Linked DNA regions of Homo sapiens: all the other regions are reported to be linked to region 2. The links are microRNA targets in miRTarBase. Many come from high-throughput screens and were not tested one by one. Region 2 holds a microRNA gene; each other region holds the end of a gene's coding sequence.
What was found. The annotated mature microRNA hsa-miR-6847-3p reads GGCUCAUGUGUCUGUCCUCUUC and lies in region 2 at 2,704-2,725, shown strand. An mRNA with a match to its seed (bases 2 to 7 or 8) in the 3' UTR can be bound and repressed. Matches are read on the target gene's strand: a 7mer-m8 pairs with bases 2 to 8, a 7mer-A1 pairs with bases 2 to 7 and ends in A, and an 8mer does both.

Region 1 (4,226 bases), not on the chromosome of region 2:
ACTCTGCCACCCAGGCTAGAGTGCAGTGGTGTGATCTCGGCTCACTGCAGCTTCAGCCTCCTGGGCTCAGGGGATCCTCCTACTTCAGCCTCCTGAGTAGCTGGGACTATAGGGGAGTGCCACCACACCTGGCTGATTTTTGTATTTTTTGTAGAAATGTGGTTTCACCATGTTTCCCAGGCTGGTCTTGAACTCCTGGGCTCAAGCGATTCCAAAGTGCTGGGATTACAGGCATGAGCCACCATGCTCAGGATGGTCATTGTGTTTTCCGTGGGATAAACGCATTGGCATTAGGGGAAGGCTTAGATCGACAACACACCCGCACAAACACATCAGCTGTCATCTCTTTACCCTCAGCATTTCTCTGGAATGTCTAAGTTAAGCTTTAAGACGTTGGTCAGATCTTAGAGAACTGGCAGAAAGGAATTTCAATGAAACATTGGGTCAGATTGCAAATGAAAAAGCTTGAAATGTGGGGATGGCCACGTTTTAATAGGTTTTTGGTTTTTGTTTTTACATGAAAGGATTCTCATCGCTTTGGAAGGCACCTGAAAGAAGCAATGACTGACATCATCACTTTGTTTGGTCTCAGTTCTAATTCCAAAAAGTAATTCCACTGGAGCTGCTGGGAAGGAAAACGAGCTCTTCTGATGCAAACCAAATGAAAAATAGGCATTAATCCTGACCTTAGCTCGGGATGAAACACTGCTCTTAAAAAAACTCAGTTTTCCTTCCAGAAAATGTGGGTGTTTTTTTTTCCTAGAACAGTATCTCTCCCCTGTGAAGCATAACCCCACTACTTCCAGACTTGCCCTCCCTTGGGGGACATCTGATAAAGTCTCCCCTGATGTCTCCGCATCGGCTTGGATTTATTAAGGGATGCAAATCTTGTTGAGTTAATGAAGGAATTAGTAGGGTTGTGGCTTCACACACAGTGGAATGGAAATGGTGTGCTTTCTCAGTGGCAACCGAAGGCCTAGTGCTTAAGGGCATTTAGCATCATCCAAGCAGGGTAAACTTTTGTTTTGTTAAAAGAAAAATGTGTTATTCAAGTTGGTGTCCCCAGTTGTAGCTAACACATCTGGAATGCACTAACCAAAATGCTGTGCTTTGGAGACCTGCTTTTGTCACCGTGGGTAACCGTTCCCGTCTGGTCCAGTAGCCTGTGTTTGCCTCTCCACATTTGAAGCAAGCAGGATGCAAGGTCTTCAGTTTTACTGACCTTGTATGTCTTCAAGTCTTCACAACCCAGTGCCTTAAAAATGAAAGGCCCTAAATGTAAGGGAGATGGAGAGAAAGATTTATTTTGTAGAGTCTTTGGGTGGAATTGTGGGTATACTGTTCCCTTCACAATTGACTGAGTATGGATAACCGTACATAAGCATTTGCTACACCCCACCAGCCCCCTCCCCCTCAGAAACACCAGTTCCTTCCCAAGGGCAGCTGTGCCAGACTCCCCTCCCGGGACTGCCTTCTTGTCATCATAAGCAACAAAAGAAATAACAGGCACATGTCATAAAAGGGGAGCAAGGGCCGTGATGGTCAGATAATTCACTCAAGAATAAAACATGACACGTGCCTCAGGAGGATCTCTTTCCCAAAGTGACAGCAAGGAGGGCAGGGCATCGGCCACCAAGCGGGGACTAGCAAGTGAGGAAGGGGAGGGCAGCCCACCGTGGTGAGGAGAGAGTGGCTCCACGACCCCAAGGGATGGCCTTCTCCTCCCACCCGGTGAGGGGAAAGACTCACCAGAGGGTGATGGAGACAGTATGCCGGCTCACCTTGGTGACCAGCCAAGATGTCTCAAGTGACAGTGCTAGGTGTTCACCCAGCCTGTCCTTCAGATAGGAGTGCCTTCACGAAAGCGTCTCATGGACCACAAAGCAATTATGCACTGAGTCATCTTCAGTATTTAATGCAAAAATGAAGCATCATGGAATGAAATTCCCACTGTCTGTCATGACAAGCTTAGCTGTCCATTGTTTTAAATTGTGTATTTATTTTTTTGACCACTTGGTTCTAGTTGGGCCTGACTCCTTCAGAGTGCTGCACCCCGATAGTACAACAGCGATGGCTGAACTGTTGGAGTCGATGGAAGGTGCTTGCCGGAGAACACGTGCCTTTTTTTTTTTTTTTTTTTTTGAGATGGAGTTTCACTCTTGTTGCCCAGGCTGGAGTGCAGTGGTGCAATCTCGGCTCACTGCAGCATCTGCCTTGCAGGTTCAAGCGATTCTCCTGTCTCAGCCTCCCAAGTAGCTGGGATTACACGCCCAACACCATGCCCTGCTAATTTTTGTATTTTTAGTAGAGACGGGGTTTCATCATATTGGTCAGGCTGGTCTCGAACTCCTGACCTCAGGTGATCCACCTGCCTCAGCCTCCCAAAGTGCTGGGATTACAGGCATGAGCCACCATGCGCGGCCCACATGCATGTTTTATGTATGTATACTTCATGATGTAAAAATCCCACCTTTATGGGCCAAAGATTTTTTTTCTCCTGAAAGCAAGAAAAAATGAAAACAAAAGACAAAAAAAAAAAAAAAAGCGTCCAGGCGCGGTGGCTCATGCGTGTAATCCCAGCACTTTGGGAGGCCAAGGCGGGCGGATCACGAGGTCAGGAGATGGAGACCATCCTGGCTAACACGGTGAAACCCCGTCTCTACTAAAAATTCAAAAAATGAGCCGGGCGTGGTGGCGGGCGCCTGTAGTCCCAGCTACTCAGGAGGCTGAGGCAGGAGAATGGCGTGAACCCGGGAGGCGGAGCTTGCAGTGAGCCGAGATCGCTCCACTGCACTCCAGCCTGGGCGACAGAGCGAGACTCCGTCTAAAAAAAAAAGCAAAAACAAACCAACAACAAAAGCCCCTGACTGTCCGTCAAGCAGGCAGCGGGGATGTAGCTCTCTCTGCCCTGGGCAAGAATAGCACTTCCCGTTAAAAGCCAGCAGCCGGCGTCAGTCCCTATCAGAGCCAGCTAGATCATGCACTGTTGACCACTGAGCAATCTGTGTTACACTAGAGTTCACAGGGCATTTTGAGTGTAGACGTGAGTGCTTAAACATATTTGGGTTTCTCTCTCAGGTTTTAAATGTTTCAAATGTAATTGTTGCTCATCAGTGCAGTTATCAATGCAATTTTATATTCCTTGAGGGGAGAAAGAGGGGTCTTATTGTACATGTCCAAGGGGGGTGATAAGAGTATTATCTGTTTAATTTAATTGGAACAAACCATTGTCTTAACGCAGCCATGGTTTGAATTTGTTATCTTGGGCTGACCGGTGCATGTAAATACAGTATGCTCTTTGGATGTAAATCTTAGAAATGCAGTGTGAATGTAGGTTATCATTAATAAAACATTAACCCCAGTCTACTACAAGATTTGTTTCTGTCTCTTTTGTTATATTAAGGGGATTATAAGTCAAGGACCAAGTTCAGATACTTGAGACAAAGTGGAAAGTCTCAGCATATGGAAACAAGGCCTTGGAGGAGACCATGGACATCACCAAGTTCATGTGCTGGGCTGGAAAGAAAAGCCTGTTGATTTTCACTTGCTGTGCATTTATTCATCCATTCCATTGCCTCAATGCTGAGAACAGTGCCTGACACATAAAAGATGCTCAATAAATATGTTAAAAGTAATGCATGAATTCCATTTTTCTGTTTTTCTTGAGCACCTGTATTAGGCCATTCTCACATTGCTGTAAAGAAATAGCTGAGACTGGGTAATTTATAAGAGGTTTAATTGGCTCTCAGTTCTGCAGGCTATACAGGAAGCATGGAGGCATCTGCTTCTGGGGAGGCCTCAAACAGCTTTTTACTCATGGTGGAAGGCAAAGGGGGAGCAGGCATTCTACATGGTGAAAGGAGACAGAGAGAGAAAGAGAGGAGGTGCTCTCTTACACATTTGCAAACAACCAGATCTGAGAGAGAGAGAGGAGGTGCTCTCTTACACACTTGCGAACAACCAGATCTCACAGGAACTCACGCACTCTATGGTGAGGACAGTAGCAAGAGGGATGGTGCTGTTCATGAGAAATGCACGCCCATGATCCAGTCACTTCCCATCAGGCCCCACCTCCAACATTAGGGATTACCACTGAACCTGAGATTTGGGTGGGGACACACATCCAAACCATATCAGCGCCTGTTCTAGGCACTGGGGAGACAGCAGTGACCCCACCAGGTTCTGGCTGTCTCATTAGTCCATTTTTACATTGCTGTAAAGAACTT
Region 2 (4,226 bases):
AGCCTGGGTGCAGAGTAAGACTCCATCTCAAAAAACAAAACAAAACAAAGAAACAAACGAAAAAAACGATGACTCAGTAAGAACAGGGACAGTAAGAGCTCAGACTGAAAGGGGAAAAGGGCTCCACAATAAGCAGAGTGGCTGTAGAGCAGAGGGTGGGGAATCCGGGGTGGCAAGTGGCAGAGGGTGGTGACCCATCATGGCCTCAGACCAGCTGCAGCAGCAGGGTTGTGGCTTGCTCACTCACTCTCATGCCTCAGTCTTTCAGGAGAGCTTAACCACCTTGGAGGGGATGCTGTGACAACTGAACTTGGGCCCCTGCAGCAGACCACATTTCCCTAGCCCGCCTGCTCTTCCTACAGTCTAATATTGACACTCCTCCCACTGAAGGGTGGGGTCCCTGTCCTCATCCCTTAAGCCTGGGCAGATCTGTCTGACTGCCTTGACCCACAGAGTGTGGCAGGAGGGACACTATGTGACTTCTGAGGTTAGGTCCTAAAAATACCATGCACATGTTGTCCACCTTGTTGTCCTGGAAGGCTACCCTTGGAACCCAGTTGCCATACTGCAAGGAAGCCCTGGTTGCATGGAGAAGCCACATGTAGGTGTGCTGCCTGACAGGCACAGATGAGGTCCTGGCCCGCCACCAGCATCAGCCACCAAAGATGTGAGGGAGAAAGCTTTAGGATGGCTGCAGCCCCAGCTACCATCTGGCAGCAACTGTAGGAGAGATCCTAAGTGCAAACTATCTAGCTGAGCCTAGATAACCCCAGATTGCAGCACATAATAATAGAATGATTTTTATTATTTGAAGCCGCTGAGGTTAAGTGGCAAGAGATAAACAGACATACAACCCCTCTCTGGAAAGGATGAGGAAATCTGCATCCTCAAAGGGAAAAGGGAGGCCCACCTGACTGCAGTGTGGAAGCTCGGTGTAAAGGGAGGGCATGAGAGGACTGGAGAGGTGCCAGGTGTGGACCATCCTGGGACACCAGCCTGGTCACTTTCCTAGGACCGCTCAATGCCTTCTCCTGTCAGTGTCGCACCCCACTGGGTTCATCCTTCCACTTTCACACTTGGGGCGCGGGGAAGGGCTGAATGCAGGCACCACTGGTCACGAGGGCGTGACTGGGCAATTCCTCCTTCGGCGGGCGCCCACCTCCTGGCACCCGTGGCACAGCTCCGGGAACGGCTGCGGGCCCAGCCGCTGCTTCCCCGATAGCGCCGCCGCAGTTCCCCGGAGACAGAAGTAGAGCCGGACCGCCGGAAACCGTAGATCCGGGGAGGTCGGGGCCGCGGTGAACTCCAGTTCACCAGGACAGGAAGTGACAGCGGAACGCCGGAAACCGCAGATCCACGGAGGTCAGGGCCGCGGAGAGCTGTAGTTCCCCGGAACCGGAAGTGATGGCGGACCTCCGGAAACCGTAGATTCCGGGCGGTCGGAGCCGCCGGGAGCTGTAGTTCTCCCGCGGCTCAGAGAAGTAGGCAGAGAGCGGACCTGGCGGCCGGGCAGCATGGCGGGGCTGGAGCTCTTGTCGGACCAGGGCTACCGGGTGGACGGGCGGCGCGCCGGGGAGCTGCGCAAGATCCAGGCGCGGATGGGCGTGTTCGCGCAGGCTGACGGCTCGGCCTACATTGAGCAGGGCAACACCAAGGCACTGGCTGTGGTCTACGGCCCGCACGAGGCGAGTGGGCGCGCGGGATGGGGAATCGTGTGGCCGTGGGAGCTGCGGGGCAGCCGGGCTGAGCGCTGGCTCGGGGACTTGAGGGGCAACGGCCGGCGCGCCTCAGTCTACACAGCCGATGCTCAGCACCGCATCTCACTCGGAGTAAACGCAAGTCCTTAGTGTGCTGCGCGGTGGTCCTGCCTTTCTCATCGGCCTCTGTCCCTGCGCCCTCCTTCCTCTTTGCGGCTCTTCAACGTGCTAGGCACTCCCCCACTCGCTCCCTCTCCTTTCAGCTCTACTCCGACGTCACTCCTTCCCAGACGACCTTATTATCCACGCGGTACTTCTCGCCCTACAATAAACCCTTTGTTTTGTGCACCTACAATCTCAAATGCCTATTTTGCTTAAGCATTTTCCCCTTTGTTTCCTCGCTGGAACATAAGCTTCCTAAAGAAAGGAACTTTACATAAAACTATCTGGTTTCATTACTGTGCTTCCAGCGCTGTAACTGCCTGGCCAGCGAAGGTATTGAAAGAGTGTTTGCTTAGCGCATGAGTGTGGGAGCTCTGCTTTCCAGGCGGAGGGAACCAGAAGGGCGAAGACCACGGTGGTGAAAACAAGCAAGGCACTTATGCAGAGCAGAAAGACTGCTGGTGGGGAAAGAGGGGATAACTCCAAATCAGGTTGAGGGTTCCCGGGGAGGTGAGGACTTAGGGTTTTGTAGAGTAGGGAAATGATTTGGGATCTTATTTCATATGTAATGTGAAACCTTTGTAAGGTAGTTAGGATTTGAGTGTGTAGGTGAGACAGAAGCAGCGTTGATGTTTGTAAACTTGGGTTGGCAGGGAATGGGGCAAGGATGGACACAAGGAAGCCAATTAAAAGGTGCCAGAGGGCGACACATGCAAGACAGAGAGCGCAAAACAGGGGGCTTTGTTTTGGAGGTAACGCAGTTGCCCCTTGCTGAGGCATTGAAAGTGGAGGGAGAGGCAGACCCACAGAGGACAGTGGAGTGTGAGCTGGAAGGAGTGGGCCTGGCTCATGTGTCTGTCCTCTTCCAGATCCGGGGCTCCCGGGCTCGAGCCCTGCCGGACAGGGCCCTAGTGAACTGTCAATATAGTTCAGCGACCTTCAGCACAGGTGAGCGCAAGCGACGGCCACATGGGGACCGTAAGTCCTGTGAGATGGGCCTGCAGCTCCGCCAGACTTTCGAAGCAGCCATCCTCACACAGCTGCACCCACGCTCCCAGATTGATATCTATGTGCAGGTGAGCCAGCTGCAGCCGTCAATCCAGGGAGGGAAGGGTGTGATGGGGTTGGGGAGGGAGTCTGATAGACTGACACCCTGGGTTCCCTGCAGGTGCTACAGGCAGATGGTGGGACCTATGCAGCTTGTGTGAATGCAGCCACGCTGGCAGTGCTGGATGCCGGGATACCCATGAGAGACTTTGTGTGTGCGTGCTCAGCTGGCTTCGTGGACGGCACAGCCCTGGCGGACCTCAGCCATGTGGAGGAAGCAGCTGGTGGCCCCCAGCTGGCCCTGGCCCTGCTGCCAGCCTCAGGACAGATTGCGCTGCTTGAGATGGATGCCCGGCTGCACGAGGACCACCTGGAGCGGGTGTTGGAGGCTGCTGCCCAGGCTGCCCGAGATGTGCACACCCTCTTAGATCGAGTGGTCCGGCAGCATGTGCGTGAGGCCTCTATCTTGCTGGGGGACTGACCACCCAGCCACCCATGTCCAGAATAAAACCCTCCTCTGCCCACACACCCCTCACTGTACGTTATCACCTAACAGCACTTCAGAGCCATGTGAAGGCTGGCAGAGCCTGGTCTGGTGCTGGCTCCTGGGGATGATTAGGGACCCTCGCCCACACATGAACGGCCTATCTCTGTGTAGCCTGATTCAAACCCTGAAGAGAACAGTGGATTAGGGGGTTTCTGTAGGGGAGGCCCTGGGTGGAAAAAGCAGCATGTCCCAGTAAGGACTCAAGGCAGCTGAGCAGGAGGCAGGGCCTGGCAAGATGAGCCAGGCCATTAGACTGAGGAATCTGTTACCCTTATTCCAGCACATCGGGGGCCCTGAGCAAAGGGCTGAGGAAGAACTCAGCTGGCTCTGGGTACCCACCCTAGGGATGTGGGGGCCATGTCCCACAACCTCTGGACTATGGTTTGGAGCCCCCTGGGCTTTTCCTGCTGCTTACCTTGGGCTCTGAAAGTACAACAGCCAGGCATGGTGGCTCACGCCTGTAATCCCAGAGCTTTGGGAGGCTGAGGCAGGCGGATTGCTTCAGGTCAGGAGTTTGAGACCAGCCTGGCCAACATGGCGAAACCCCGTCTCTACTAAAAATACAAAATTAGCTGGGAGTGGTGGCACATGCCTGTAATCCAAGCTACTCAGGAGGCTGAGACAGGAGAATCTCTTGAACCTGGGAGGCGGAGGTTGCAGTGAGCCGAGATTGTGCCACTGCACTCCAGCCTGGGCGACAGAGCAAGACTCCATCTAAAAAAAAATAAAAGTACAAAAATTACCTGTTCTCATGGATCACTTGAGGTCAGGAG
Region 3 (4,226 bases), not on the chromosome of region 2:
ATGAGGTAATAGCATATGAACTCAACTGTGCTTATGGGTACCTTATGCTATTATGTGGTATTAACCAAAAGTTTTTCAGGTGTTAAATAGTAAACTCTACTAAAACTTTGTGGGTTTTCTAGACTAAAACAGTGTGGGTTAAATTTTATATTTGGATTATCAGTAAATCTAACAGCATTTATAATGCTTTGAACAAAATTTGAAGACATACTATAGAAGCTGAAGTAGGTGGAATTAAAACTATCTTCTACTCTGCTGTTAAAGAAAAGCATTGCATCGAAAACTCTAAAAGGACTCATCACTTTCTTGGGATTGAGATACGTAATCCTATTAGAATTCAGTCCAGATAATACAAAAGCAACTGAAGAACTTAAGTGTAGATTTCTGTGCCCCACCTATTGAAACAGAATCTATGGGGATGAGCATTAGTATGAGATCCTGTAGGTGATTTGAAGGAGGTGTTTTTCCCTATAAAGAGGTAATCTTTTTACTTTTAATCTATTTACTGTAGACAGTAACTGTGAAAAAAAAATCATTTTGGATACCTCAAACCAATTAATAGTGGACTTAGTTTATTTTATTCTGGCTTAGTTGAGAATACTTTTGAATTTCTGTTGAGTATATGAAAATCATATTAAAATGATTCAAAACATTTTCTTTCCACAGAACCACATATTCTTCTCTTTAGACGACCTCTTCCAAAAGATCAACAAAAATGAAGTTTATCTGGGGATCGTCAAATCTTTTTCAAATTTAATGTATATGTGTATATAAGGTAGTATTCAGTGAATACTTGAGAAATGTACAAATCTTTCATCCATACCTGTGCATGAGCTGTATTCTTCACAGCAACAGAGCTCAGTTAAATGCAACTGCAAGTAGGTTACTGTAAGATGTTTAAGATAAAAGTTCTTCCAGTCAGTTTTTCTCTTAAGTGCCTGTTTGAGTTTACTGAAACAGTTTACTTTTGTTCAATAAAGTTTGTATGTTGCATTTATCACTGTTTCAAGTTTTTGAGGTATATTTTCTTAATTTGTGACTATTGAAATTTGTGACTATTGAAATTGATTTCAGTGTTATAGTTTTAGCTCTGAGGAAGTTAACTTACCTTAAAGATGATGTTAAATGAGTTTAAAATAGTGCGGTATGATCTGGATACCATTTAATTCACTTAATGAAGAAATTAATTACCAGGGATATGTTTAAACTAAAGCCAAAGTAGATTTTACCTCTTGAATTCCTGGAGAATTGTCTAGAACAGGAAAGCCCAAATTAATACTATCTGGGCTACTTCACTGGCCACTGGTGGTCTTGGGAGAAACCTCTTTTTTATCCTCTTCTACATTTCCAAAGTAGGGATAATGTTTCCTATAAAGTATCACCACATTTTTAAAAGTTCAAAAACACTGTAAAACACCTTTGCCTTTTTAGCTGCTAGGAAAGTGTTTTGGAGTTATTCTAATTAATTGCTATGCTATAGAAACATCTTAAATGAGCAGCCAGCATACATCAGGTCCATTGGTTAAGAAAGGGTGTCTTTACACATGAGGGCAATAAATTTTGAAGGTTGTGATTAGCAGCATCCTAAAATCTACTGCCACTACCATAGGTTGTGTCCAGGGTAACCAACAGAAACATGACAAAATCAAGTAAACTTCATTACACTTCCGGGTAGACCCAATAGTGCTGAAAGGAAGGCGACAGCTACCCCTAAACTTCCAGCATAAATTCCTGCCAGACCAGACCCTAAGGATCACTTCTGCTAGAGGCTGTGTAGTGAACTGAGACCCACCAGGACAGAAATCTGAAAAAACTGGAGCTGCACCTGCCTTACTTGCTTGAAATACTTCGTATTCAATGGTAGAGTTAACGTCTGTGCAAGGGACAGAGGAAACCTACAATTTGCCTCAACCTAATCCCCATTCCTCAAATAGCCTGTTTTGCTGACATTTTCTGTTCCTTAAATCCACTTGCACTTTCCTCCAAGCCTTTGAGTGAGAGGAAAGTTCCTCCTCCATCTATTGAAATCCACTCTGCATTCTTCCCTGTACTTTTGGTCAACCTCCTATCCCTGCCGCACTTTATACATTTCTCTCAATATTTAACGAATTTGCTCTGTGTAGAACTTTTTTTTTCTCGTGAAAATTATACTATTCCATCTCTTGACCATATCTTAGCACTTTTTTTAATTTTTGAAAGAAACCGAGCGATTTTTAAATTATTTTCTGTGGCTACTTCCAAACTTAAGGTTTCTGGAAATTTAGGATACCATCAAGAGTCTTGTAGGCTTTCCAGGTTTGTAGGACCTACAGGGTATGCAATTCCTGTAAGTCACCAATCTTGGGGAAATTTTAGGGAAATGCAGTGGCGGGGGTGAGAGTAATCTCGGCCTCCTCAGTTTCCTTATTAGTAAATCTTTCTCTTCAGGTGACTGCTCAAAGGTCACCTCAGCGAGAGGCCTTTCCAGACTACCCCATCCCGTCCTAACGCTAGACTCGTGAGGCCCAGGGGAGAAAAGTAAATCACGGCCTAACTCTTGTTTATAGTCGCTACTGCCTTGGTGGAGACTATCTCCGATATCCCAGCACTAAAAGGCAGATCCAAGACTCCCGCAAGCTACGGTGGGTCCCCAGCCCAGAGGACTCCTGGGGGTCCCCATTTTCCGCAAGCGCCCCACTGCCTCCACGTGCTGCCCGCGCAGGTCCAGTGCCGCCGCCGCGTACTTCCGGCCGGAAGAAAGGGCGGGCTCTGTCGCTTTGCTGTGACGCACTTCCTGGCGTCGCCTGCGGGGGCGGAAACGCTTTGTCTGTCCGGCAAGCCGACGGCCCGCTGCTGGCCTCCGTGACGCGGCCTCCTCCGCGCCTCGCGGCATGGCGTCGGAGGGGCCGCGGGAGCCCGAAAGCGAGGTAAGGGCCGACGGGGGCTCTCTCGGCAGCCTCAGTCCGTCCGCCTGCCTCGCACTGGGGGCTCGGCCGGGCGGTGACGGGGCTGGTCCAGCGGGCGTGGGTCGGATGCTGGTGACGGCACGGGAGCGCCCTACCGGGTGGCCGCGATCTTCGCGCCCCGCCTCGGGTCCGCCTTGGGGTGGCGGTCAGCGGCTACAGACCCCGCCCACAGTTAGCGCCGCGTCTGTGGTGCGATGTCACCCAGCGCAGTGACTGCGGCCCAGCCCGGCGCTCCCCGCAGTCGGGGCGGGGGGACTCTGGCGAGCTTCCCGCGCTCTTGGGAACGGATAGATTGTTTTAAAGGATCCTGCGTTTTTCTGAACGTCATTCTCCGCTCTACGTACTCAGCATTACCACTAGATGGAGCCCTGGCGATCGCTTGCATCATTTTTAGACCCATAAAATTCTCGGTGAAAGTAAATCTCTTACTACGTCACTAAAAACTAAAGAAAGAAATCTTAGTGAATTGAAATTTCAAAGGCTCGTGGTGATAATATTTTCTAGCAAAGCAAGGTTTGGTATTTCAATAAAGCAAGACTTAGTGGTTCATGAGTAAAATGCATATGCTTTTGTGCAACTTTTTCAAGAAAATGTAATGGAAATAAACGTCTGCAGTGTGTTTTGGGTGCTGTAGTTAAACAGTCCACGTGTATTTGACTGCAGTAGTTGTACTGTGTGCAGTTCTATTATTTCTAAGTGAATCTGTGGTAAAAACACCCTTATTCCAAGATCTAAACTATATAATCTGTGTTGTTTTATTTCCACTTGAATTCGTTGTCATTTTTCACTTTTAATGTTTGAACTACTGCCTTTTCTACAAAAAAAAAAGCATTGGGGAGAAATCGTTAGCAAGCAGGTTCTTGTCTTTACGAGGCAGAAGTTTTTAAACAACATCGGGAACATTTCTGGGGCTATTAGGAACACCTCTTGGGTCTTTTTGTTTGTTTATATTTGCTTGATCTCTGAATGTTTGTGGCCAAAACCTCATATTTTTCCTCAGGGCATCAAGTTATCAGCAGATGTCAAACCATTTGTCCCCAGATTTGCCGGGCTCAATGTGGCATGGTTAGAGTCCTCAGAAGCATGTGTCTTCCCCAGCTCTGCAGCCACATACTATCCGTTTGTTCAGGAACCACCAGTGACAGAGTATGTATCTTTCTAAAAGTCTTACCTAGGGGCTTACATTTTGGATTTAATGGTGATTAGACTTTCAAATACTCAGCAGTTACTGCACTAAAGTTCTGCAGATGATGAGAGAATGCTCTTCAACCAAGAAGAGTC
Region 4 (4,226 bases), not on the chromosome of region 2:
CTCATGTATTCCCCCAGGGGAACAATATTTGAGGTTCCAGTGTACAGTTAATTCTTTAGACCTTTCTGGATGAACTTATTGTTAGGTTATCTTAACTGCCAATTCAGATTTAAAATATCATGCCATTTTCTGCATGAAAATTGCCTTATTTTTCATGCTTAGATTATTTAGCTTAGTGAAGCAGTATTTTAAATCTAAATAGAGACTTTGGGTTAGAGGCATGAGCTGACAAACTGAATTTTAAACATGAGATTTGCTGACTAAAAACTTGATGGTTTTCTTCATGTTTGTTTTTCACTTTAAAATGTTTTGCCTTTCTTCCTCACCCAGTTAATACACTGTTAAATGTGAAATTAAGTGAGACAGAAAATGGCAAGCATGTCTCTATATTGGATCTACCTGGCAACATTCTTATTATCCCTCAAGCTACCCTTGGAGGAAGACTAAAAGGAAGAAACATGCAATATCACTCTAACTCTGGAAAAGAAGAAGGGTTTGAACTTTACTCTCAATTTGTGACTCTATGTGAAAAAGAAGTAGCTGCTAATAGCAAGTGTGCTGAAGCTAGGGTTGTAGTGGAACATGGCACTTATGGGAACAGGCAGGTGTTAAAGCTGGACACCAACGGACCATTCACACACTTAATTGAGTTTTGAAAATGAAAAACTAGTTTCTATAGCTGTTTTCTGGTATGAAATGATCTAAAGTATAATTAGATTTTCTTCCCCTTAATCTTGAATATACTAATCTTCAGCATTTTTAGACAGGAAAATCTTGGGTTTCATATATAACTCTGCACCTGCTAATTGGATGACTTTGCCAAGTCACCTAAACTCTGGATCTCAGTCACCTTTTGTCCTACATTCCTCTACCCTTCTACTTGAAAATTTGAAATATGCTGTCTATTCACTTCATAGTCATTAAGGAAATGTTCTTAATTGTTTTTTTGTTTTTGTTTTTTTTTTGAGATGGAGTCTTGCTCTGTCGCCAGACTGGAGTGCAGTGGCGCAATCTCGGCTCACTGCAACCTCCACCTCCTGGATTCAAGCGATTCTCCTGCCTCAGCCTCCCAAGTAGCTGGGATTACAGGCGCATGCCACCATGCCCAGCTAATTTTTTTGTATTTTTAGTAGAGATGGGGTTTCACCGTGCTGGCCAGGATGGTCTCGATCTCCTGACCTCGTGATCCGCCCACCTCGGCCTCCCAAAGTGCTGGGACTACAGGCATGAGCCACCGTGCCCGGCCTCTTAGTTGTTTTTTAAAAATTATGTACATTTTAAGTATTTTGCAATGAAGAAATTCATGCAAACAAGAAAAACACATTTCTTATACCATCAAATTTGTGTAGCATGTAATAAAAATAACTATTTGTATTAAAATTAGGTAAACTTCAGCACAACCCAATTATAACTTTGTTAATTTTGTTTACTATTTCAGTTTTCTGTATTTCCATATGTAAGTCACCATTTCTTTTAATAATATGCATGAAAATGTAATATAGGGCCAAATGTGGTGGCTCATGCCTATAATCCCAGCACTTTGGGAGGCCGAGGTGGGAGGATCACTTGAGCCCAGGAGTTTGCGACCAGCCTGGGCAGAATAGCAAGACCCAGTCTCTAACATATACATATACATATAGATATATATGTAATATAGAAGGGTTATTGTGTGTTATATTACTTTCCAGGGACATTCAAATGTTTTACATTACTTTAAGAATCTTTACTTGATATAAGAACAAAGTATAAGGGTTTAAAAGTTGTTTTTATTAAACATACTATATAAATGGGTTAATGGTCTATTTTTCAGTTTTTACCAAAATCATGTGTCTCACTTTTTGTCTTCGCTTTTTAAAGAACTGGTTCATGAAATTAGTGTTAGTTCATAAATTGTTTAAGAAGTTCCTTTTCCATTGAATTAGATTGCTGTAAAAGGGAGAAAAAGGGAAGCTTCCCATAAGAATAGTTTGAAAACAAATTGACTTGTTCATTTCCATATTATCTGCTTGATGATATGGAGCCAGTGTCAATTTTTCTGTTAGTGAATGTTTTGGACTAGATGTTCCCGTCCCCAAAATTTATATGTTGAAGCCCTTATTAATGTGATGGTATCTGGAGATGGGGCTCCTCCAACCATCCCATCCTGGAACATATAAGCCAGAAAGAAAGTAGTCTCCAGAAACAGACCATGCTGACACCTTGAGTTTGAACTTCTAATCACCAGAACTGTGAGGAAATAAATTTCTGGTGTTTAAACCACCCAGTCCTATGGTATTTTGTTAGGGCAGTCTGAGCTACGACAGTGATATAAGATAGACAGCTAGTAAGGTAAACTTTTCAAAGGCAAGAGAGGAAGATATACAAGAAATTGAAAGAATAATTAAGTCAGTAAGAGGTAATATTCAGTTTTGGCAAACTCCTCTGACTTGAGTTGAAAATACTTTTTTTTTTTAAGAGTAAAAACCAAATAACTAATTCTAATTGGCAAAAAAAGGTAAATAAATAAACATCCTAAGTAGCTGCTGAAATTTCCGTTGTGTCTTATAGTTTCTTTAGGTCTGTGTTCCTAAGATGCTTAAAATTTTTATCATGAAAAATCCTATTTTCTCTATACCCTTCCTGTACTGTTCTATTTTGGAACCAGAGAATCAATAACTGGCTTGGTAATGAGCTCATTGTCCTTAACTTTTGCTTTATTGATTCACAATACACTTACTGAAATGTAATAAACTATTCATAAACTTGCAAACTCCAGTTGTCTCAAAGTTTCTCCAAAGAGGTATGTACATATTTCAAAAAGATAATGTTACCTATTTTAAACCATTTTGATTTTATGTCTAGGTGAAATGCTGACTCATAGCCCTTGATTGCTGTTTTAGAGTTTAGGCAATCCTCTTTAAAAAATGTGCTTGAGGTACCTGGGGAGAATAACAATTTCAAGTACATGAAGGGTTATTAAGCAGAAGGTGATAGGCATCTTTGCTTAATTTCCAGAGAGGCTACAACAAGGGAAAAGGCAAATGAAGTCGTGGATATGAAAATAACTATACCTTGGCTTTCTGTAGCTCTTCTGGCCCAAGGTGCTCAAAGAATCTTCAACAGATATTTTATCTTCACAGTATATGTATGATGAGGATAGCGCTGTGGAAAGTAAGACAATGCTTAAGGAATTTCCCCAAGGTCACACAAGAGGGAGGACTAATTTCTATTTTCTTGACTTTCTTGTAGTGACAGTTGTTAAAAATTGAAATTGGCCTGGGCGCGGTGGCTCACGCCTGTAATCCCAGCACTTCGGGAGGCCGAGGCGGGTGGATCACGAGGTCAGGAGATCGAGACCATCCTGGCTAACATGGTGAAACCCCATCTCTACTAAAAATACAAAAAATTAGCCAGGTGTGGTGGCGGGCGCCTGTAGTCCCAGCTACCTGGGAGACTGAGGCAGGAGAATCACTTGAACCCAGGAGGCAGAGGTTGCAGTGAGCTGAGATCGCGCCACTGCACTCCAGCCTGGGCGAGAGAGCAAGACTCCGTCTCAAAAAAAAAAAAAATTTTGAAATTGATCTTGATAAAGACCTAGCATCTCTCAATGTGGATCACTTGAGAAAGAATAGCCAATAAATTGGTTTATTTTCTAAATTAGGAGCAGACAGGATTGCACCTAATTTAGGTGCTTTCTGCCTCTGTTTTCCTAAGATTAAAGCATGTTTCAAATAGAATATCTAAATACAGGTACTATTTTATCTGCCAATTTAGAAACCTCTGGATTCAATTATAGAAAATACTATATTTTCCATTGTGTATAAGACACAATGGATATGGTTGTAATAGCTTGAGTACTTTCATATAAAGTAAAATCAAACATACTTTTACCATTCTTTCATGAGTTCAAGTCATAAAAGAAGGTATACCATTTATTTCTGAATAGTATCTGTACTAGTGATGATTTCTTGACTCCATAATGAAAGAACTAAATTTATCAGATATCAATATCAATACTATAAAATCCTTCATGCCACTTGTTTTAGAAAAGAACTCACATTGATGTTATAATAGAACAATGTCATGTCAGATTTTTACTATCTGTGATTAACATTGCAGAGGACCTAATTTGTTATATTATAGTTAAATGTATAGCAAAAAAAAAAGATAATGAAATTCCAATGTCCTTAGAAGGGTCTTGCCTATTAATTTATTGAAATAAGACTAGTTTCTTAAAGGGAAGAACT
Region 5 (4,226 bases), not on the chromosome of region 2:
TTGAACTCGGGAGGCGGAGGTTGCGGTGAGCCGAGATCGCGCCATTGCACTCCAGCCTAGGCGACAGAGCAAGACTCCGTTTCAAAAAAAAAAAAAAAAGAAAGAAAGAAAGAAACTGGGTAAGAGCGATCCTGCAATCCTCCTGCCTCAGCCTCCTGAGTAGCTGGGATTACAGGCCCGCCCCACCACGCCGGGCTCCTTCCCAGACCTCTTTTCCTCACCCATAGAACGGGACCATTAAGCCTTTCCTCCCTTCCAGGCGTGCCAGGAGGAACGCGCAAGAGGTGGGAGGAGGACAGGCTGGCCAGTGGGGTCAGCTGGGCAGTGTAGGGCAGATGCGGAGGACAATTTTATTTTTATTTTTGAGACGGTGTCTCGCTCTGTCGCCCAGGCTGGAGTGCAGTGGCACAATCTCAGCTCACCACAGCCTCCGCCTCCCGGGTTCAAGCGATTCTCCTGTCTCAGCCACCCGAGTAGCTGGGATTACAGGCGCACGCCACCACGCCCGGCTAATTTTTGTATTTTTAGTAGAGACGGGGGTTTCACAATGTTGGCCAGGCTGGTCTCGAACTCCTGACCTCAGGTGATCCACCTGCTTCGGCCTCCCAAAGTGCTGGGATTACAAGCATGAGACACAGCACCCGGCCTCCTTTCTTGTTCTTTTACAACTCATTTAGAGCTGTGTTGATTTTTAAAATTCTTCGTATAGGTAGGTGATACTGCCTGTGAATTCTGCAGCGTAAAGGGCCCGTTACAACTGTTATTTTAAAGGTGTTGGCCAGGCATGGTGGCTCACACCTGTGATCCCAGCACTTTGGGAGGCCGAGGAGGGTGGGTCACCTGAGGTCAGGAGTTTCAGACCAGTCTGACCAACATGGTGAAACCCCATCTCTACTAAAAATACAAACAAATTAGCCGGTGTGGTGGTGCACGCCTGTAATCCCCAGGTATTCCGGAGACTGAGGCAATAGAACCGCTTGAACCTGGGAGGCAGAGGCTGCAGGGAGCCAAGATCATGTCACTGCACTCCAGCCTGGGAGACAGAGCGAGACTCCGTCCCAAAAATAATAAATAAAGGTGTCGAGTCTGTATGGAGAATCGCTGCCTTAGAGCCCTCTCCCATTTTCTGAATGGGGAAACAGACCTGGAGAGGGTGGGAATCGGGTCCAATTGATCCCCTTTTCCCACGTCCCCTTTCCCAGGAGGCAGCCTCTTGTGGGCTCAGGCAGGCCTGTGTTCAAATCCTGTGCCTTTCAGCCTCAGACAGGGACAGAAATGAGGATGAAACCTAACGCGTGTCCATTGCTAGCAGTCCCCCGCCACAGTGTGAAGGCCATTTTGGGTCTGAGATTCCTTTTCCTGCCACTGTAGGTAGTGAGGTGGCCAGAGACAGAATGGAAAATGCGAAGTGAGAGGAGACAGGGCTCTCCTAGTCCCCTAGGTTGGTCTTGGGCCCTCCTTCCTGTGAACCTGCCCCGTCCCCTCTTCTTCCCCACTCCCCTCCAGCCACACTGGCCTCACTGTGCTCCTAGGGCCACCCAGCAAGTCTCCGGAGCACCAGCCTAGCCCCGCCTCCCTCTCCAGCCTCATCGTTGCTGCCCCTTCCAGCCACCTATCTTCTTCGATCTGTTTCTGAAAGTTTATTCCACAAGCTGGTTCCAACGGCAGGGCCTTTGCGTCTGCTGTTTCCACCATTTGAACACCCACCCACCCCAGCATGGCCAGCTCTCTCTTCCCGTCCCAGCCCAAATCCATCTCCTTGGGGCCTTCCTGCTGCCCCGTTTTAAGAACAGCCCCACACCCACCTTGCCTCATCACCTCTGTAATTTACCACCATGCAGATGGCATCCTCTGACTTTCCTGAGCCTCGAGGCTCATCTGACCCTGACAGGAGGCAGCAGCCTCGCGGTGCATTGGGGTGACTGGGGTTGCGTGGTTTCAGCTGGTTTGCCTCTGGGGGTTGGGAATTTTTCTTCCTGTGTATACTTCTCTGCACTTTCCAAATTTTCTACCACAAAGATACATCAGAAATAAATGCTGGAGCCGGGCGCAGTGGCTCACGCCTGTAATCCCAGCACTTTGGGAGGCCGAGGCGGGCGGATCACGAGGTCAGGAGATCGAGACCATCCCGGCTAAAACGGTGAAACCCCGTCTCTACTAAAAATACAAAAAATTAGCCGGGCGTAGTGGCGGGCGCCTGTAGTCCCAGCTACTTGGGAGGCTGAGGCAGGAGAATGGCGTGAACCCGGGAGGCGGAGCTTGCAGTGAGCCGAGATCCCGCCACTGCACTCCAGCCTGGGCGACAGAGCGAGACTCCGTCTCAAAAAAAAAAAAAAAAAAATACAAAAACTAGCTGGGTGTGGTGGTGGGCACTTTTAGTCCCAGCTACTCGGGAGGCTGAGGCAGGAGAATCGCTTGAACCCGAGAGGTGGAGGTTGTAGTGAGCTGAGATCATGCCACTCCAGCCTGGGTGACAAAGGGAGACTCCGTCTCAAAAAAAAAAAAAAAAGAAAAAAAAAATGCTAGGTCTTCCCCAGCCCTTTCCTGACCCCACCCCTTGTGTTGCAGGTCACAGACCCTCGAGGAGCTAGAGAAGGGTTAATATTAGCAAAGTTTTACTTTTTTTTTTTCTGCTCATAAATGACTCTGAAAAAGCCAATACGCAAGAGGCTAACACAACTGTAGTCTAAAGGCAACGTCGAGGTCACTGATATGTCCCTCAGACAAGAGGCACTGCTCAGAATCCCCCTGTGCTGGGGGTGAGGGAAGGAGGGGACGGTTTAGGACAGAGGAATAAATACATGTGGTTGTGGGAGTTCTGCCATCAGGGATGGTGGCCCCAGCCCAGGACCCCAAAACCCTGAGGCGGTGCAGTGGGCTGCCAACCCCCCAGCTCGGGGTTCCCCAAGGCTGCCTCAGTGTTTGGATGGGCTGGAAGGAAATGCTGAGGTTCTGGGAGGGCCCCATGGCCAGCCCCCTCTTCCCACTCTAGCCAGAGGAGAGCCAAGCTCCCGGCTGGCCAGGGCCCTGGGGTAGGGAGCAGTGCCCCCAAGAGGGCTTTCTGGTGTCAATGTCTCATGCAGCGTCAGGTGGTGAGGCCTGGGCCTGGCCCTGAGGCGGGAGTGGGGGTGACAGGCGAGGCTGGGGTGGGCCCTGGCACCTGCAGCTTTGGGCTGCCCATGTGTGTCTGCTGACATCCCGACTATGGTCCACGGCCGGGAATGGTGGGCAGACGGGGCTGCTGGCAGCCCTCAGCCTTATAGTGTGTGTGGGGGGTGGACGAGGGGTCATGAGGACAGGGATGGGGCTGGGCGTCTCTGGTAAGGACCAGTAAGTGCCAGGCAGGACGTACTCTGAAGGCTCAGCCGTGGCCCATCTGGGACACAGCCCTGCTCCCGAAGGGGCTCCAGGGGAACTGCTCAGCCAGGTGATTCACCAGGGCACGGGCAGGCCAGGCTGAACCCGGGGCCCCAGTGTGCGATGTGGGGAGGTGACTGGGTGAGCGTGAACAGGGCGTGGGGTGCGCGGGGCGGGTGGCCGTGTGACCGTGCCCGGCCCTCAGAAGACGAAGCAGCGCTCCGTGGGGTGGCCCACGTGGTCCAGGTTGGGAAGGCAGGCGTACTGGATCATGGGTGGGGGGCCACACATCAGCACCAGCGGCTCCTCCTCTGGGGGTGGAAGGTGGTCCCGGATCATCTCCTCATTCACGAAGCCCTGGCCGTAGTCCCAGGCTGTGGGGTGAGAGACCAGGTAAGCTGACGTGTGGCTGTGTGGTCACCAACCTGCTGACCGACCAACCCTAGGCGGTGAATTCCTTAAATGCTGAAGAATGGAGAGGCTGATCCCAGCAAACTGTCACCAGGACCCCCTGCCCCCAACCCTGACTCAAGCCTATGGCCTCAGGCCCTGCAGCCTGAAACCAGTGTACAAAGCCCATCATGGTTCCCCTGACTGCACTTTACAGTTTGCAAAGCCTTTTGCTTCCATTTGGCCTCCGGGGTGTCCCTTGGAACAACCCAGTGGGTGGACAGGGCGGGGAATATGAATCCCATTTTACAGATGTGGCAACTGAGGCCCAGAGGACCCAGAGTTGAGTTGCTCAAGATCACACAATGAGGCAGGGACACGACTGAGATGTACCTTCCAGGATCCAGAGGTCCCCAGGCTGGTGCTCTGCCCCAGGCTGCTCAGGGTGACAGTCTCTAACTGCCCCCACCTCCATGAGC

Region 1: the mRNA of CPT1A is a reported target of hsa-miR-6847-3p. Seed matches in the 3' UTR shown: 7mer-m8 at 2,403-2,409.
Region 3: the mRNA of CKS2 is a reported target of hsa-miR-6847-3p. Seed matches in the 3' UTR shown: 7mer-m8 at 829-835.
Region 4: miRTarBase lists DTD2 as a target of hsa-miR-6847-3p. Seed matches in the 3' UTR shown: 7mer-m8 at 1,226-1,232.
Region 5: the mRNA of CYB5R3 is a reported target of hsa-miR-6847-3p. Seed matches in the 3' UTR shown: 7mer-A1 at 2,632-2,638.

The regions. Positions count from the first base shown.
Region 1 is chr11:68,754,029-68,758,254 of GRCh38, reverse strand. CPT1A (carnitine palmitoyltransferase 1A) reads left to right here. Exons shown (of 19, transcript NM_001876.4): 19 at 525-3,372. The coding sequence ends at 611. Among named protein-coding and RNA genes, the nearest start is that of TESMIN, 4.6 kb to the right of the region's middle.
Region 2 is chr8:144,077,215-144,081,440 of GRCh38, forward strand. It overlaps MIR6847 (microRNA 6847), which reads left to right and starts at 2,660; the gene lies at 2,660-2,728. EXOSC4 (exosome component 4) reads left to right here and starts at 1,458. Exons shown (of 3, transcript NM_019037.3): 1 at 1,458-1,685; 2 at 2,729-2,935; 3 at 3,028-3,434. The coding sequence starts at 1,515. The coding sequence ends at 3,387. It overlaps LOC124902038 (a long non-coding RNA gene), which reads right to left. Exons shown (of 2, transcript XR_007061141.1): 2 at 785-4,167. RefSeq lists enhancers at 1,170-1,219, 1,230-1,529.
Region 3 is chr9:89,315,707-89,319,932 of GRCh38, forward strand. It overlaps CKS2 (CDC28 protein kinase regulatory subunit 2), which reads left to right. Exons shown (of 3, transcript NM_001827.3): 3 at 667-997. The coding sequence ends at 719. It overlaps SECISBP2 (SECIS binding protein 2), which reads left to right and starts at 2,794. Exons shown (of 17, transcript NM_024077.5): 1 at 2,794-2,906; 2 at 3,946-4,091. The coding sequence starts at 2,871. RefSeq lists an enhancer at 2,444-2,663 and a silencer at 2,834-3,153.
Region 4 is chr14:31,444,559-31,448,784 of GRCh38, reverse strand. DTD2 (D-aminoacyl-tRNA deacylase 2) reads left to right here. Exons shown (of 3, transcript NM_080664.3): 3 at 331-2,749. The coding sequence ends at 656. HEATR5A-DT (HEATR5A divergent transcript) reads right to left here. Exons shown (of 4, transcript NR_110045.1): 3 at 3,051-3,141. Among named protein-coding and RNA genes, the nearest start is that of DTD2, 11 kb to the left of the region's middle.
Region 5 is chr22:42,616,215-42,620,440 of GRCh38, forward strand. It overlaps CYB5R3 (cytochrome b5 reductase 3), which reads right to left. Exons shown (of 9, transcript NM_000398.7): 9 at 1,626-3,731. The coding sequence ends at 3,559. Among named protein-coding and RNA genes, the nearest start is that of RNU12, 3.1 kb to the left of the region's middle.